Regions from separate parts of the Homo sapiens genome. Here region 1 is linked to region 2. A link means that fine-mapping ties the variant in region 2 to the expression of a gene that starts in the linked region. Tissue or cell type: prefrontal cortex. Region 2 holds a variant in brackets; the other region holds the start of a gene. All regions are shown on one strand. Distances are from middle to middle.

Region 1 (8,104 bases), 33 kb after region 2:
GCACCACACACAGGACCACTGTGACATGCAGGAGGTGCTCACGTGCCTCTAGCCCACCAGCATCTCTGCCTGTTACAAAAGCTACACACTGGCCCTGGTGTGGAGGCTGGCCCTCTAGGCTGAGGCAGGCCTCATATTTTGTGCCAGGAAGGAGGTCATCCACAGCATAAGTATTGATTCCGGGGCCAATGTGAACCACCTCCTTCCTGAAGGCTTCATCCGATGCAATGTAGAGGGTGAACCACTCCTCCTTAGAGGTGTCAGCCACTGCAAGCCACTCCAGCAAAATCCCATGCACTGTCTGCTTGACAACCCGCAGGTCAATGTAGGCATTGCCCTCCGAGGGGATGGAAAGAGAATCAGGTGCATGTAGGGCCTGGGCAGGCTGGACATGGAGAGAGATTACAAGGTTGCTCTTGCCAATGGAGTTGGAGGCCATGCAGGTGTAATTACCACTGTCTACCAGGTGGGCAGCAGGTATGGCCAGCTCTGACAGAGCAGTGTCTTCTCCAGTAGAAGATGTCAACACTGGGTGGAAAGAAAAACAAAACAGCTGTGCATTTATCTGATAGACTGCTGGAAAGTGTCTAGCAATGCCAGTTTTGTTTTGTTTTGCTTTGTTTTTTGTTATTGTTGTTGTTAGAAGATGGTGGTAACCTCTTATGAACCTCGTACCTGGTGTCAGGTGTTTGCCTCCCAGCAATCCTGTAAGATAAATAACTGATCTTTACACATAGGATATTGAGGATTGGAGCAATCCATCAACTTGCCCGTAGTGAGAGTTGTTCAGAAGCAACAATTGATATGGGACCTGGCTCTTCAATCTATGAAGACCATACTCTTTCAACTTCACTAACTGCACCCACCAAACCACCTTCGCCTTGCTGAGCCATGGCTTTCAGGAGAGTTCTTGCAACTATGTGATTGTACGATATTATGAGCTTCAGGAAGTGCCTTCTTACCTTCCAGATGCACAGTTCCTCAGAGCCTGGAGCCACATGCCTGGGCTGCTATCCCTAATGGAGCTCCTATCCAGTGTGGTACTGGGCAAGTTGCTTAAATTCTCTTGACAATTTTCTTGTCAATAAAATGGGATGATAAGCAATCACCTACCTCATTAGTTTGAAAGTAAGTGTTCAATGCTTATATTTTTACTGAGAGATTATATAACACGTTGCCAAACAGTGATTATAGAACACCACGAAAGACAACACCTGTATGCATTTCTTGGTTTTCAAAGAGGCTACAACAATAAATCCTATAATTTTCTTTCATTGATATTGAATGCCAAACCAATAAGGTATTATCAAAACAATACAGAATGTGAAAATTCAGTTAATTGGGTATTTTTAAACCATCCAGAGTTTTGTCATAATGTATAACAAATACCTGGGCAAATGACTATATTTCCCAAGTTTTACCCAGCTATTCCTAGTTGTCTTCTAGACAGAGAACAGAAGACAGGACACGAGGAATGTACGAAGATTTTTCTTTTCAGCTTTGGGATACCCCCAGGGAGGCCATCCCCGGCTTTGTGATATGCCCAACCCTACAGAGTAGCATTAAAGGTAATCCCAGCTGAGGTATGAAAACAGAGCAGAGGGTTCCAGGAAGGAAGAGGCAGGTTTGAATTCCAGCCCCAGGGCCCACAGAGGTCACTTCCTTTCCCTGGGTCCCAGTATTACAAATTCAAGCCAATAAGGTCTGAACAATTTTATGTCAGTGTTATTTCAAACAAGCACCCCAGGTGATTCTGCTCAGGCAAGTTAAGGAAATAACTAATAGATCATCTCTAAAATCAATCCTAGTAAAAAATTCTAGAATTCTAAAATACATAGTCCAGTGTTTTGCATCTAGAAGATTCCCAAAGACTATATCTGCTCATATAAAATTTTATAATATTTGCATAAGATATTAAATTAGCCCTGAAATATGTGTTTATATATGTGTATATGTTCTGTATGCAAAGAGATCTGTATGCAAACATTTAAAATAATGCCAATAGTGGAACACTACCTTGAAATCTTTTCTGTTCTAGTGAGCATAATTCAGGGCTATCCCAATCTTACTTGCACCCACCCTTCGTGACTGACCCAGCTTTGAATCTCTCTAATGAGGATGGGTTTGCTACAGACCTCTCCATTCCCTCCAGATACACTGAGAGGGTGCATGTGGCTTACCATCAAATTCTCTCCACATACTCAGGGGATAAGTCCATGCAATGGATGGTGAGGGGCTGGCCTGTGCCAAGCATCGCAGGGTCACATTCTGTCCTGCCCGGATGGTGATATTGGCACTGGGGGTTGAGATCTGTGGCTTCATGCAAGCACTAAGCTCAGTTTCATGAAAAAGCTGCCCTGCCTTGGACAGAGGGCCCTGACATATCAGGTAGGAATTCACCAGGATGACTGGGAGGGTAATGGACTTGACAAACTGGACAAGCCCCCTTAGGCGACAGTCACATACCCAGGGGTTGTCATGCAGGGCCACCACCAGGCTGGAGAGAATCTCAGCCCCACAGTCAGGCTGCCGGCATTTCTGGTAGGCTGGCCAGTTCAGGAAGACACTCTTGGATACAACTGTAAGCCTATTGGAGGATAGGTCAAGGTAGGTCAGGCTGACCAAGAATTGAAGAGCCAGCTCAGGGAGTGCATCAATCTTGTTGCGTTTGAGATCCAAGACCCTCAGGAGAGGGGTGGCACGGAACGCTGTCCATGGTACTGAGCAGAGCTTGTTCCCCTCCAGTCTCAGCTCCCTCAGTTCTGGCAGGTGTTCCAGGGCTCCTAGGTGGATCACACTGATATTGTTAAAATTGAGCCAGAGGTATTCCAAGGTGCTCATGTTGATGAAAGACCCTTGGGGCATCTCAAATAAGGGTGAATTTTCAATTCTCACTTGCTTGAACTCTTCAGAAAGGTTCCCAGGGATCTTTCCCAAGGAGACAGATGTGCACTGCAGAGTCCTGTACAAGAAACCAGAACAGCTTTAAGATAAACAACAGGGGACTGAAAAGTGGGGTCAGGCTGATCCTGGCATTAGACATGTGAATCAGAATAAAAATATTATTATTCATTGAAATAAAAGAGTTAGACTCATTTTGGTAAAAATGCACAGTTCAGCAAAGTTCAGTCCCAACTAGAATGAGTCTCATAGAGTTTTGCTGATTTCCTGCCAATTCTAAGCCTGCTTCCACTCCACATCATCCCCAAAGAAAACCCATTCCCCATAACCCTCTAACATCTGGCCAGCAGAGCGCACCTGCCAAAACTCTCCTCTGAGCAAGTGCATCCTGGCAGACAGAAAGGCTGAGCTGCGTGTGTATCCAGAAAGACCAGAACTAACAGGAAGTAATGAAAAACTGAAGCCATATTTCTCTGTAAGAAAATACGTTGTGAGTTTTGAATAAGTATCGCCCCAGCTTCCGAGTGGCAAATCCTATTATTGGTAATCCATGATGATGTAAGTCACACAGCAGCAGGAAAGCCCATGGGAGCTCTGAGGTCTGTTACAGCCCAGACCACAAGTTCAGTCAGAACACACGAAGGGGGATCAATGTCTCTTAACTAGGGTCAGGAAATTCAACATTTGTGTAATTCTTGAGTCTGAAAAGCAAACTCCAAGTCAGATGTCCAATTCCATACAGATTCTACATTTCTTAGAGTCTTAAACAGAAGTCTGAGAAACAAGCAGGCAGTGCTATTCTGAGCACCACTGTTCAGGGGATGTGGCCAGAATCCATCTAATGCTTCATCATTTGCAGTTGATTCCTGAAACCTAGAATTTCCAATCATTTTCTCAAAGTGAAAATAGGTGATGAGTAACAAAGTAATTCTGTGTTCATTCCTATCATTTGTTCTCTTCCCAACACCACGGGTGGTGTAGTCATGCTCCTACTGCATCAAGACAGCTGCTTCTGCAGCTTGGGTCACCAGTTTCAAATACAAGATGGTATTTTCTGATTAAACCAAAAGATTGTTTTCTTGGACTTCACAACCTTTCCTTAATACTGTGCATTTCACTTCATCAAAATGGGCAACCTACATTTTAAAAAGAGATGTATACAATTTTATATGCTTGCTCTTTCACTCTTCATTTATTCCACAAATATTTACTGGTCATTTGCTTTAAGCTATACTCTTGCCCAATGAAAGGAACAGGGTCAAGGGCAAACCTATTATAGACCCTGTCCCAAGGAGTCTTCTCTCTTGTTTGTGCTTCTGAATCTTGAGATCTTTGGAATGTAATTTAATCTCTGTGAGTCTTTTCTGTATCATGAGAATATTAACAAATACCTCATAGTGTTTCCAGGAATTTATTTCTCATTATTTTTTAATTTTTGTATTTTTTCAGAGACAGGGTCTCACTCTGTTGCCCAGGCTGGTCTCAAACTTCTCAGCCTCCCAAGTAACTGGGATTACAGGTGCAAGCCATTGCATCCAGCCATATTTTTAGAAAAGTTTGAGATTATGTTAAATACAACACCTAGCACACAGTTGGTGCCCATTAATCCTCCTCCCACTGACAAACTCTTTAAGATCCGAAAAGTCTACATCTCTATTAACTAGGGCACTTCCAGTTGAATATTGAAATTCCATGAGTTCCTTTAAGACTCATGATATACATTGTACCCTACAAAAGGCCTCAGGAAAGAAAATCCGCTTAGCTAACCAGTGAGGGGGGAAATGGGTCACCAGCTAAGCTGATTACACTCCAGGCTTTCCATCCAAGCCAGAAATATTTGCAGGAGTTTCCAAACAGTCTAACTCTAAAACCTGGGGGGACCACTGTGTTTGTCTAAAGGTAAAAATCCAAAACAAAGAGAGAGCTATCGGCACAAAGTTTGTCATACATATGGCTATGTGCTTCCTAGATCCCCCTTCAAGGTATAAGTGGATGCTCAGCTGCAAGGAGTGCTTGCATGAGGTCACGTCCTTCCCAAAGCAGCCACATCCCACATTCAGTGACTGAGGGTGGTGAGGGCCTGGCCAGTTTGCCCTGATGGGGGAAAACTCTGATGAGCAATTATCACTCCAGAGTCCCCTACCAGCTTTGCTAAGGCTTTGTCAGGCTTGTTTCATGGAAATATGTGATTTAATTCATGACTATTCCAAACCACTAGTGGATTCCTTTCTCTCCCCTTACCCCAAAGGATAAAGATCTTAAGAGTCCTCCATTCCCCCACAATTTCCTCTCTGTCCATCTCATGCCAGCCTTTTCAAATGAATCCAGCTCCATCCAACTTTCAAGAAGTTTGCGGGAAGCTTGTGAAGCACACCCACTGGCATGCTATCTCTAGAATCATCTAGGCCACTTCTCTACTGCCCCCCACTCCTTTCCTGACCCCCTCATTCTCTGGTTTCCTTATTTGGCATATGAACAGAGGGAGTGGCTCTCTTGGAAATTGAGGCAGGAGACCAGGATAATTGAAGTTAGCATGGGTCAAGTTATTTATGTTAAACAACCTGTGGTTCAGTGTAGTCCCTAAACTCAAGAGACCCTAACAACAATGGCAAGAGGGTCTGGAAATATTACAACCCATCTTCCCTCTTGCAGGATGCTTTTCAGAACTAGGGTCTTAAAATTCTCCATAGAGACAGAGTCATGGGGGAGGAATTACTCTGTGTTTGTGAAATGCTTAGATATAAATGGCTGCAGGGAGGCAGCTCCCTGGCTTGTCTTAATAGAATCTTAATAGGAGAGTGTCCTATCTATTCAATTGGAAAATGCCACTCACCTTCCCAATATTAGTAAAACACTGGGCTACCTCAGACAGAGAACAGGGCATCCTATCAGGGAGCAGACACGCTGTACTCCGTTTCTCTGAAGCTAGGACTCTTTCCCACCCCCATCGTCTGCTGCCAGCATGTCTGAGATGCTGCCTCAGCTACCCACGCTCTTAGGTATGCCTGTGGCAGAGACACAAAAGACCTTTCCAAGCCTCCTTGAAATAGGTGGGCTACAAGACTCTTGATCTAGCTAATGAAATGTTACAAGAAATGAGGTTTGAAAAGCCCTAACATGATCTTCCAATTTATCTTTTTCCTTGTTGTGGCAACCACTGACATTCCAAATGGTGGAGTCTTCCCAGCCATGTCCTTGAGTAAATTAGTGAAGCAGAGCCCTCCCTCCTTCTGTATTTCCCAAACTTAAGTAGAGTCTGTGGAACAGGAATACATTTTTCCGTGTTAAGCCATGGAAATTTGGGAATGGTTGCCTAAGCATAAATCTAACCTATCCTAACTACAATGCCCTTGTGAATAAATATGCTCAGGTACTTGTATGTTGATTTTTGCCTTTGTTAGATTATATGATAATTAAGACAAAAATTTCCAGCTCTTGTCCTCTAGACAAACTGCTCACTGAATCCCTCGATTGATAGCCTAGGTTTGATAGCCCACATCCACTTTCCAGAGCACAATTTCTGTATTTGCCTTTTTGTACCCAGCAACTTCAATGGGCAAGTGACCTTGGACATATTCTCTGCTTAATCATGAGGAATAAAACCATGTTGCAGTCATCAAAAGACATCATGAAGATGCTATGATTCCAACCAACCTACAAACCAGGCTTCCAAGGCCAGCTATGCTGCAGCCTCGCCATGGCCCAAATTGGTCTTCAGCATTGGAAGGCCAGAAATTCTTTTGCCAGGATACTCAGAGGGCATTCAATTTTCAGGGACTAACTCATACTCATCAGACTCACATACTAAAAGACTAAGGTAAGCCAGACATCATTTTATTTTTTACAATAAGAATGTGTTTCTTCCCATGACTTGAATATTCATGAGCGTAATCCAGGATGATTCTTCTCTACAAGGGCAAACCAGGGAAGACAGGATACACAAAGGAAGGTTGACAGATGAGTTTTGGGAGGCTTATCATCTTGGAGGCTGTATTAGTCCATTTTCACACTGCTGGTAAACACATACCCAAGACTGGGTAATTTATAAAGAAAAAGAGGTTTAGTGGACTCACAGTTCCACATGGCTGGGCAGACCTCACAATCATGGCAGAAGGCAAGGAGGAGCGAAGGCATGTCTTACATGACATCAGGCAAAAGGATTTGTGCAGGGGTACTTCCATTTATAAAACCATCAAATCTCATGCGACTTATTCATTACCACGAGAACAGTATGGGGGAAACTGCCCCCGTGATTCAATGATCTCCACCTGGCCCCACCCTTGATTCATGGGGGTTATTACAATTCAAGGTGAGATTTGGGTGGGGACACAGTCAAACCATATCAGAGGCCTTTCCATCCAGACCATGAAAATAGGTCCCAATAAACCATTGGATCATTGGCAAGATTGAATTCTCTCTCTCTCTTTCTGTCTCTGTTAACATCAGATAAATACTACAGATTTCTTGCTTTTAAGTTCCTGATTTTTCTTCAAACAAGACTCAATAAAACTGGCTAAATGTTACTTGTCTTTAGGTCAATAACTGTCCCATCATGATTGGTTCAGACCATCATTTAAAGGCAACATCCTGATCACTTCAACAGATGACTGCTTTCATCTACTGCATTTACATTTGTCCTAATTTTGGGGGTGTCTATCACTCTCATTTATCAAAGAGTCAGAATTGAGTCTTGGGTCTCCAAAACTCACCAGAAATATCTTTCTAAATTTTCATAAGGGGTAAACAAACTACAATCTCAGGGTCAAACCCAGCCTGTCACCTGTTTTTGTAAAAAGTGTCTTATTGGAAGACATCCATACCCACTAATTTACATATTGTCTATGGCTGCTTTTGCATCCCATCAGCAGAGTTAAGTAGTAGCAACAGAGCCTAAAATATTTACTATTTGCCTTTCTTTACAGGAAAAAAGTTTGCTGGCTCCCAATGTACACAGTGTCTTTGTCATCTTACAACAAAACAGCCTCTCTTACCAATGTCTATGGTCCACAAGTTATAGTCAGGTGCACCCTCCAGGTGGTGGCAGAAGATATCCAAGAATGGAAATTCCATGCTCATGTGCATGGGTGCTCTCATGGTTCTGATCCCAGGTTTCAGTGATTTTTAAAAAGTTGATTTCTATAGTGAACCTTCTGTAGACCACATTGCAGGGATGGATACTGAATAAAGACCATCAGCCTGATGA
Region 2 (8,104 bases):
CATGACCGGGAACCAAGGCTTATGACATTGTCAGATGCCTCTTCATTCATTCATTCAATATTCCTCTATTTGGCCGGGCGCAGTGGCTCACCCGTTTAATCCCAGCACTTTGGGAGGCTGAGGCAGGCGGATCACCTGAGGTCAGGAGTTCAAGACCAGCCTGGCCAACATGGCAAAACCCAATCTCTACTAAAAATACAAAAAAACTAGCCGGCCATGGTGGCACACAGTTACTCAGGAGGCAGAGGCAGGAGAATCACTTGAACTTGGGAGGCGGAGGTTGCAGTGAGCAGAGATCATGCCACTGCACTCCTGCCTGGGTGCAGAGCCAGACTTCGTCTCAAAACAAACAAACAAACAAACAAACAAAAATATATATATATTCCTCTATTCGTTCAGCCAGTCAATAATTACCCATTGAGGACCTATTTTGTGCCAGACCCTATGCTAATGCTGAAGCAAACTATGAATGAAACTCAGCCTCTTCCCTGGTGCACAGCCTTCTAGGGGAGACACAAAAGCAGACTGCACAAAAGACTTTTTTTTTAGACAAGGTCTCACTGCGCTCACTCTGGAGTGCAGTGGTGCAATCATGGCTCACTGCAGCCTCAACCTCTCAGATTCAAGCAATCCTCTCACCTCAGCCTCCCAAGTAGCTGGGACTACACCTCAGCCTCCCAAGTAGCTGGGACTACAGGTGTATGCCATCACACCCAGCTAATTTTTTTTTTTTTTTTTTTTTTTTTTTTTTTTTTTTTTGTAGAGACAGGTTTTCACGGTGTTTCCCAGGCTGGTCTTAAACTCCTGGGCTCAAGTGATCTGCCCACCTCGGCCTCCTAAAGTGTTGGGATTATAGGCATGAGCCACCGAGTCAGGCCTACTAAAGTCTTTTAAAGGCTCTGTTGAGGTTCCAAATAGGGAGCAGTTCTGCTTGGAGGCAGAGGTATGCTAGGAAAAAGAATCTTCTGGGAAGAAAGAGATCCTTTGATGTGTTCCTCTACTCAGTCTCAGCCATGTGGCAGGCTGAGAAAGCAAAGGAGACTACTGTAGGCAAAGTCAGGGTTAGAGGAGGCTCTGCCCACCCGTATGAATGCCCATACAAGCCAGGAGTCAGAATGAGTGGGCAAAATGGTTACTGGAGCCACTAACCTATTAGATGGGTACAAGGAAACAGGTGGCACCACAGAGTCCCTCAGTTAAAGAGATAGGCAAGGTCTCAGATAGGAAAGGGACCCCATCCTCATGTCAGAGGAAACTGAGATAGCCACTCTACACCTGGCCCGGGCACAGCAAGGGGGCAGGGGAAGCCACATGTCACAGTAGATGGGTATCCAGGCTCCCCAGGCACACTGAGCCCACAGCTGAACTACTAACCTCAGAGCTCACTGAGTGGGGCGGGACTCCCAGTTTCCAGCCAGGGGAGGACATCCTGGCCCAGACCTGCAGAGGAGAGTCTTCAGGACCTTACCTGGACTGGGACAGTACCTGACGGAATTGTATCTAGAGAGGGTATGTCCAGTACACAGTTGATACATCCAAGCCTATTCAGATCCCCTGACCCTATTCTGTCAAGCTCAGTACCAAACTCTGCCTTGGGCCAGGACTTTCCTATCGTGAGCAATCATTTTGTTGAAACTTTGGACAGAGCAGCTCAGGATGCCAACACACCAGGACAGAGGTCAGTCTGTCAAATGGTCTCACCCTCACTGTCTCAGACTGCTGGGGCAGAAGCAGGGCACTAGAAACCTATTGCGACTGTCTACCCGACCTGGCTCCCCCCTCATATTGTCAGGAAATGAGCCTGAATCGCAGGCACATGCTGCTCACCACATCCTCAGTACCAGATGGAGCCTGGAAGTCACCTGGCCCAACTGCTGTCAGTGCAGGTATGCACGTGTGTCTATGCGTGGAGATAAGATGTGAGTGGATTCACACATTGTTGGATATGTGTGTATGTGTGTACAAATGGGACTATAACTCTTGTGTATGTTTGTGAGCAGCTGTGTGAATTTGTGTCTATGCACATGGGCAAGGGACTGTGGGTTGGCACACTCAGGTAGATCAGATAAAGGCAAAGACATGGATGTGCACGTGAGCCTGAGTTGGCATATTGGCAGACTTACAACACATGCATGCCCAGGCTAACAGCTGACACGCCAATTCTCGCTTATCAATAGCTGGAGAAGCTGCCATAAATCCACCAGAAGAAGAGCTGTCAGAAGCTGACTTTAAGATGACACTATGTGGTACTGCACTGCAGGTACCATGGCAAGGAGGTCCCAGGAGACAGGGAGCTCACCACCCTTCAGGGGTGACGGGCATTTGGAAGACAGTGTGACTGGTGTGCCTGAGGCTGCCCAGGCTCTGTAAGTGAGGGTCAGGTCCCATGTCTCATGGCAGATGAGTCCTACTGAGCCTTGACAAGCCAAGACCTTCCATACTGCAAGGTCAAGATCAGGGTCCATGGTGAGAACCACCATAAAGAGCTGCTGTTTTCCCAGGTCCTTAGGTGATTTGAGGACAGGGTTGTATCTAGGGTGACCGCCAAATACCAGGTTACCTTAGGCTTTGCTGGTTTTAGCATTGAAAGTCCTGCATCCCTGGAAACCCCTCAGTCCCAGGCAAATTTGGGCAGCTGGTTACACTAGCAGATCTGAACCTAAAACAGCTGAAGGAAGCAGCAGGAGTTGGAGTGGGGGGTGTGGAGGGTCTTTCTCAGACCCTTCTACATCAGAATAGAAGTCAGATGTAATGGTGCTGCCTGTATTCTCAGCTGCTCAGGAGGCTGAGGCAGGAGAGTCTTTTGATCCCTAGAGTTCAGGGCCAGCCTGGGCAACATAATAACACCCTATCTCTAAAAAGAAAGAAGAAGAAAATACAAAGTAAAATACAAAACTGGGGCTCTGGAAGGAATGTGTGATGTGTGAGTGAGAGGCCTAGAAGCTGAAGCTTCAGTAGATTCAAGATCATCTTCTTCTGCCATGAAAAGGGTTTGAACCAGGCGGGCACAGTGGCTCATGCCTGTAATCCCAGCACTTTGGGAGGCCAAGATGGGTGGATCACCTGAGGTCAGGAGTTCAAGACTAGCCTGGCCAACATGGTGAAACCCCGTCTCTACCAAAAAAAAAAAAAAGAAAAAAAATTTGCTGGGCATGGTGGCGTGCACCTGTAATGCCAATATTTGAAAGGCTGAGGCAGGAGAATCACTTGAACCTAGGAGACAGAGGTTGCAGTGAGCTGAGATCCGCCATTGCACTCCAGCCTGGGTGACCGAGTGAGACTCCAGCTCAAAAAAAAAAAGAGTTTGAACCTTCTTTGGAGCCAACCCAAACTGTATGTGAATCCAAGCTCTGCACCTCAGAGAGAATAAGTCACTTGCTTGGTCGTACACAGCCAATGAGGAAATCTCCCTCCTCTGCAAAGCAGAGAAAATCACATTGGGAGAGCAGTGCAGGTCAAATAAGATAATATGGGCAAATATACATAAGCACACATACAGCACATGGCATGTAGGCTACTCCTTCCCCTTCCCTCTCCAGTGCATGGCTGTTGACTGAGGGAACTGAGGAGAGAGAAATCAACGGCCCTAGATTGGTGAGGAGCAGGGCTAACAGGACCCAGGGAGAGCTGGCTTTTCTCGGCCCACCAAGACATCTACTCCAGGAAACCTTGGCTCTGCCTCTGGCTCCTGGGAAATCCACGGCAAGACTCAGTCTCCACATCCCTATATGGGACTTGCAGAATACTTGCCTTAGCTTTGTCCCAGCACTTTGGGAGGCAGATTCAGAACATCTGTGCAATTTAAAGTGTGTCTTTTCAGCAAAAGAGCCAAGCCTAAGGAGACTCAACAAGGGTTTCGGCCAATTAGGCCTGAAAACTGCTGCACATTCTAAAACCATTGATTCATCTTCCTTCTTCTCTGCAAATCCCTGACCCTTGCTCACAGTAGATCATGTAGGGCTAGACCAAGGGATGGGGGGTGCTCTGTTCCCTCAAAGGCCCCTGGCAGGGGGAGGGGGGGAATGCTGAGTCCTCAGCTGTGGAGACCTCTCCCAGGAGCACACAGAGGAGGGATCTCCTCTATCTGAGAACACATCCACCCAAGGGCATCCTGGGAAGTGGCCTGGCTTGGGCTTGAAGTGACCTGTACCCCCATAAATGGCCCAACCAGGAAAAGGAAAACAGGCTGCATTTCCAAGCACCCTCCAGTGTCAGAGCAGGAGAACGAGGAAGCCCAAGGAGCTTTACCAGCAGCCAAAAAGGTTCCTGGGCTTACCTGTGTCTTCAAGTTATCAGCATCCAGGACCCCAATAGCAGTGCCTTGCTTTGTGTAAATACCCTCTAGGAATGAGATCTCGTGCCTCTCGGGCAGTTCAGATCTATCTTGGCCAGCTCTGTGCAAGTCTGTCCTAAGATGGGGCTTAACTCTGCCTTCAGGCCCTTCACTCTTCCTTGGAAGGTTTGAAGAGTGGGTCAGCTGCCCCTTCATGGTCCCAGACTGGGCACTGACTGGGAATGGGGAGCAGAACTGCCTCTCACCCTGGTGGACACCTGAGGGTCCTCCCTGCTGCCCACCACACAGATCAGACCCTTTGGGAGAGGTGGTCCAGCCTGGGGAACAGGGCAGGAATGGGTTGAGATCACAGAGAGGGGGTCCTGATAACCCCTTACCATCTGCTGCCCATCCATCACCCTTTCTCTTTGCCTTTGGTCTCACGCGGCTTATAGAACCTGCTTAGACTGCTAAGGCAAGGCCCTCTCGGCCGCTCCACTAACTTTTCTTCTGGAATGCTTAGCTCAGAGAAGACAGCTAAGCCCCTGAAAGTCACAGAGGAAGTTGATGAGAAAAGAAAACTGCGAAGCCCAAGCCCCACCAGGACTTAAGTACCCTGGGAAAGCCTCAGGACAACTTGGGGGAAAGACACTCCTGTCCCCCATGGTGTCCTCCTGTCCAGGACTGGGGGCCGCCGGCAAAGGGGGCGTGG[C/T]GGGCGGGGAGTCCTCTTGTCACGCCCTCCTGCCCCCGCCCGCGGCTGGGAGCCTGTCGCTCCGCTCTGCGCCGCTAATTGGTCTCGTCAGGCGGCCGGCAGGAGCAGATCCGAGCCGTGTCATCCTCTTAGCGCCCTCACGCCACCCGCCGCTCCCGCCCCGTGCCCCCTCCCGCCGCGGCTGCAGTCGCCGCTACCCCCATTGTGGTCTCTGCCCTCCCCGCGGGCCCAGGGCATGCTCCGTGCCCCTGCGCCCGGTCTCGGCGGCGGCAGGCGACACTCCGCGCCGGCGGAGACATGAGGCGCTGCCGGTGGGCCGCCCTGGCCCTGGGGCTGCTGCGCCTCTGCTTGGGTGAGTGGCCGCTGGGCCGCGCTGGCCGCGTGGATGGCGAGGGAGATGGGCGCTGGCGTCACCCAGGTGGCCAGAGGGACATGGTCCTGGACCACTTCCAGAGTGGGACTCGGGCTGGTGGACGGGAGCGGAGAAGTCCTTCCATCTTCCTGGCCCATTCGGTAGTGGGGAGTGGGGTAGCGGAGTAGTGGGGAGCTCCGGGGCGCTTCTCCAGAGCTGGCATCCTAGGGCCCCAGGGTTTGGCGCCCGGACCCCCGCTGCTCTCCGCTTGCTGGGAACCAGAGCTGTAGGCTTGGTGGCAGCTCCGATGCTGCGTGGGGCAGGAGATAGTGCCCTGACTCGCGGCTTGACCTTGGCTGGGCTGGGGCACTGCCCCTCTCCGAGCGCGGGTGCAATCTGCCCATTGATGAAGGAGGGGTTGGATTGCTACCTGGGTTCTAAGCGCCCACATGCTACGTGTCCCTGACAAGCCCGAGCCCACCGGGGGCGGAGTGGGGGTCAGGGGCATCCTCTGGGCGGCGCCCCAGTGGGGTCCCTCGGTGCACTTGGGTTGGGGAGGCGGAGCGCCCTCCTGCCCAGTAGCTGGGCCTGACGCGGGACCGCGCTGGTGCGAAGCTCCCTCCTGGTGTCTGGGTGTCCTTTGCCTGGGTGTCCGTCTGTTCTGTGTTCTTTTTCCAGCTCAGGCCAACTTCGCCCCGCACTTCTTCGACAACGGGGTCGGCAGCACCAACGGAAACATGGCTCTGTTCAGCCTCCCAGAGGACACCCCTGTAGGTGAGTAGCCCTGGCACCTGCTCCCGATAGGTCTCCCTGAGGGGTGCAGGCAGACTTAGAACACAAAGTGCCCCAGGCACCACCCAAGTTGCTGCGCGCGCCCGGGGGCTCCTTGTTTGCTCTCCGAATTCCCCTGGGCAATGGCAGGAAAGAAGGTCATTGCTGCCATGGCGACTTAAGTCTGGCCAGTCCTGGAGACCAGGGCTCCCCCCCACAGACAGGGTCGCCCCGCGAGGCAGGCAGCTACAGCTGCCCCTTATGGCTGTGTGACCTTGAACAAATGTATTTACCTCCCTGAGCCCCAGGTCTCTAGGCTTTAAAACGGCCTAAGAACATCCAACTTGCTGAGATATGCAGAGAGAGGGGAGGAGAAAGGGGAGATTTCACACTCCTTCTCCCTCACTTTGTGGGTAGTGGGAACCCGGGGAAAAGGGAGAGCAGAGCAAAGTAGGCACCTGGCTCAGAAATCCCTGCAGAACCAGGTCCAGGCATCGGGGACAGTGGTGCACTGTGGGTCACCCCTCCTGCCTTAATGGCTGCTCCCATTTCCCCTTCCCTGTACCCAGGAGCCCCTCAATCTTGGATCCTGAGAGAGGAGTTATTACCAGGCTGAGCAGAACATAGGCACTACAGTTAGGCACGGCAGACCTGCACCTGCTCTGTAACCCGTGTTATAGATTACAATCTGGAAAGTGGCTGATCATCACAACCACCCGCTGTGAAGAATAAACATACAAAGAGGGAAGCAGCCAGCAGGGGTGAGGCCAGCAATGAGCACCAAGTTCAGGGCAGTACCTTTGGCACTGAGTTGAATAGTCACTTTATAAACAGCTGAATCGTTGGTCCTGAGCATCTGCCACTTTTAGGAAAAGTTGGGTCTCAGATTCTATGTCTCTCCACTGTGTTTCCTTCCAGGCTCTCACGTATACACCCTGAATGGGACAGACCCTGAGGGAGACCCCATCTCCTACCACATCAGCTTTGACCCCAGCACTAGAAGCGTCTTTTCTGTTGACCCCACTTTTGGAAACATCACCCTGGTTGAAGAGCTGGACAGAGAGGTATGGGGAGGTGTGGGGAGTGCTGCGGGGCCACTGCCTGTAGACAGACCTCGGTGGGCTGAAGTTCCCCTGGAGCACATTGGTTAGAACCTCTCCACAGAGTAGGGGATGAGGGGGCACACCCCAGGCACATCCACTCTGTGAGATCTCTGGGCCACTTCCCATCAGCAGAGTGGGCTTTACTTTCATGCTCCTCCTTCACACAGAGCGAAGAGTGGGCTCCTTTAACGAGCACCTGCCAGCCCTGCTAATCTTTTAAGCATGTTCCATTAAAAATAAATCCGTTTGCACTTTGAGGTTTCTGAAAGAAACCTCACAAAGTGATTTTTCAAGCCTGTCCTGGGAGAGGCACAGGAACTCAGAGCAGGTCAAGGCTGGAAAGGGTGGTTGGCAGTGAGTCTGAGTTTGGCAGAGCTCCTCCACTCTACACACTTGAGAACTTGCAGGCAACAGGGCATGGGCTTTTTCAGACCGCATAGCAGCCTGGTGTGTGGCTAACTGGACCTCAGCTGTGGGGATGCTGCCAGCTCGTGACAGCCTCCACTAGCTGCAGGACAGGGTAGAGAAAGGAAAGGGAGGTCTCAGGGACTGCTGTGGGGACACAGCAGTGGAGCCTGACTGTGCTGCCAGTACCCCACTCCCTGGCACCCGCGGGATCTGGCAACATCCGATACCCTTCCCCATTGAGGTCTCACCATATCCTGGGAGCACTGAGACACCATGGATGTGAGCCTCTGCAGAGCCCTGGAATGTGGAGAGGTGTGGAGAGAAAAGGGGAGAAAAGGGAAAAGAAAGAGGAAAAGTCTTTATGGGACCTTGAGCACACTAAGGTCGACATCTCGCCTCACTGTGGCAGGAGAGTATTTTCTGTTGGAGCCCCAACAGACCCTCTGGGTCTCTGAGTTTATAAGAACCCCGGACACAAAAGTCCC

Direction of the effects. Alleles are on the strand shown, and positions count from the first base shown. SD is a standard deviation of normalised expression in the study named.
In carriers of allele T in region 2, the expression in prefrontal cortex of the gene that starts at base 3,392 in region 1 tends to be higher than with C alone (moderate effect, 0.75 SD a copy in GTEx).

Evidence for each region. PIP is the estimated chance that this variant, and not a neighbour inherited with it, causes the effect.
Region 1: it holds the start of LRIT2, and the variant in region 2 is fine-mapped to the expression of LRIT2 in prefrontal cortex (GTEx, PIP above 0.99). The same link has a PIP of 0.9 or more in anterior cingulate cortex, caudate, cerebral cortex, hippocampus, nucleus accumbens and putamen.

What each region holds. Positions count from the first base shown.
Region 1 is chr10:84,222,153-84,230,256 of GRCh38, forward strand. It overlaps LRIT2 (leucine rich repeat, Ig-like and transmembrane domains 2), which reads right to left and starts at 3,392. Exons shown (of 3, transcript NM_001017924.5): 1 at 3,259-3,392; 2 at 2,181-2,962; 3 at 1-528. The coding sequence starts at 3,368.
Region 2 is chr10:84,189,479-84,197,582 of GRCh38, forward strand. It overlaps CDHR1 (cadherin related family member 1), which reads left to right and starts at 5,059. Exons shown (of 17, transcript NM_033100.4): 1 at 5,059-5,337; 2 at 6,016-6,111; 3 at 7,027-7,172. The coding sequence starts at 5,283. RefSeq lists silencers at 4,955-5,084, 5,155-5,274. The variant C/T (reference allele first, on the strand shown) is at 4,986.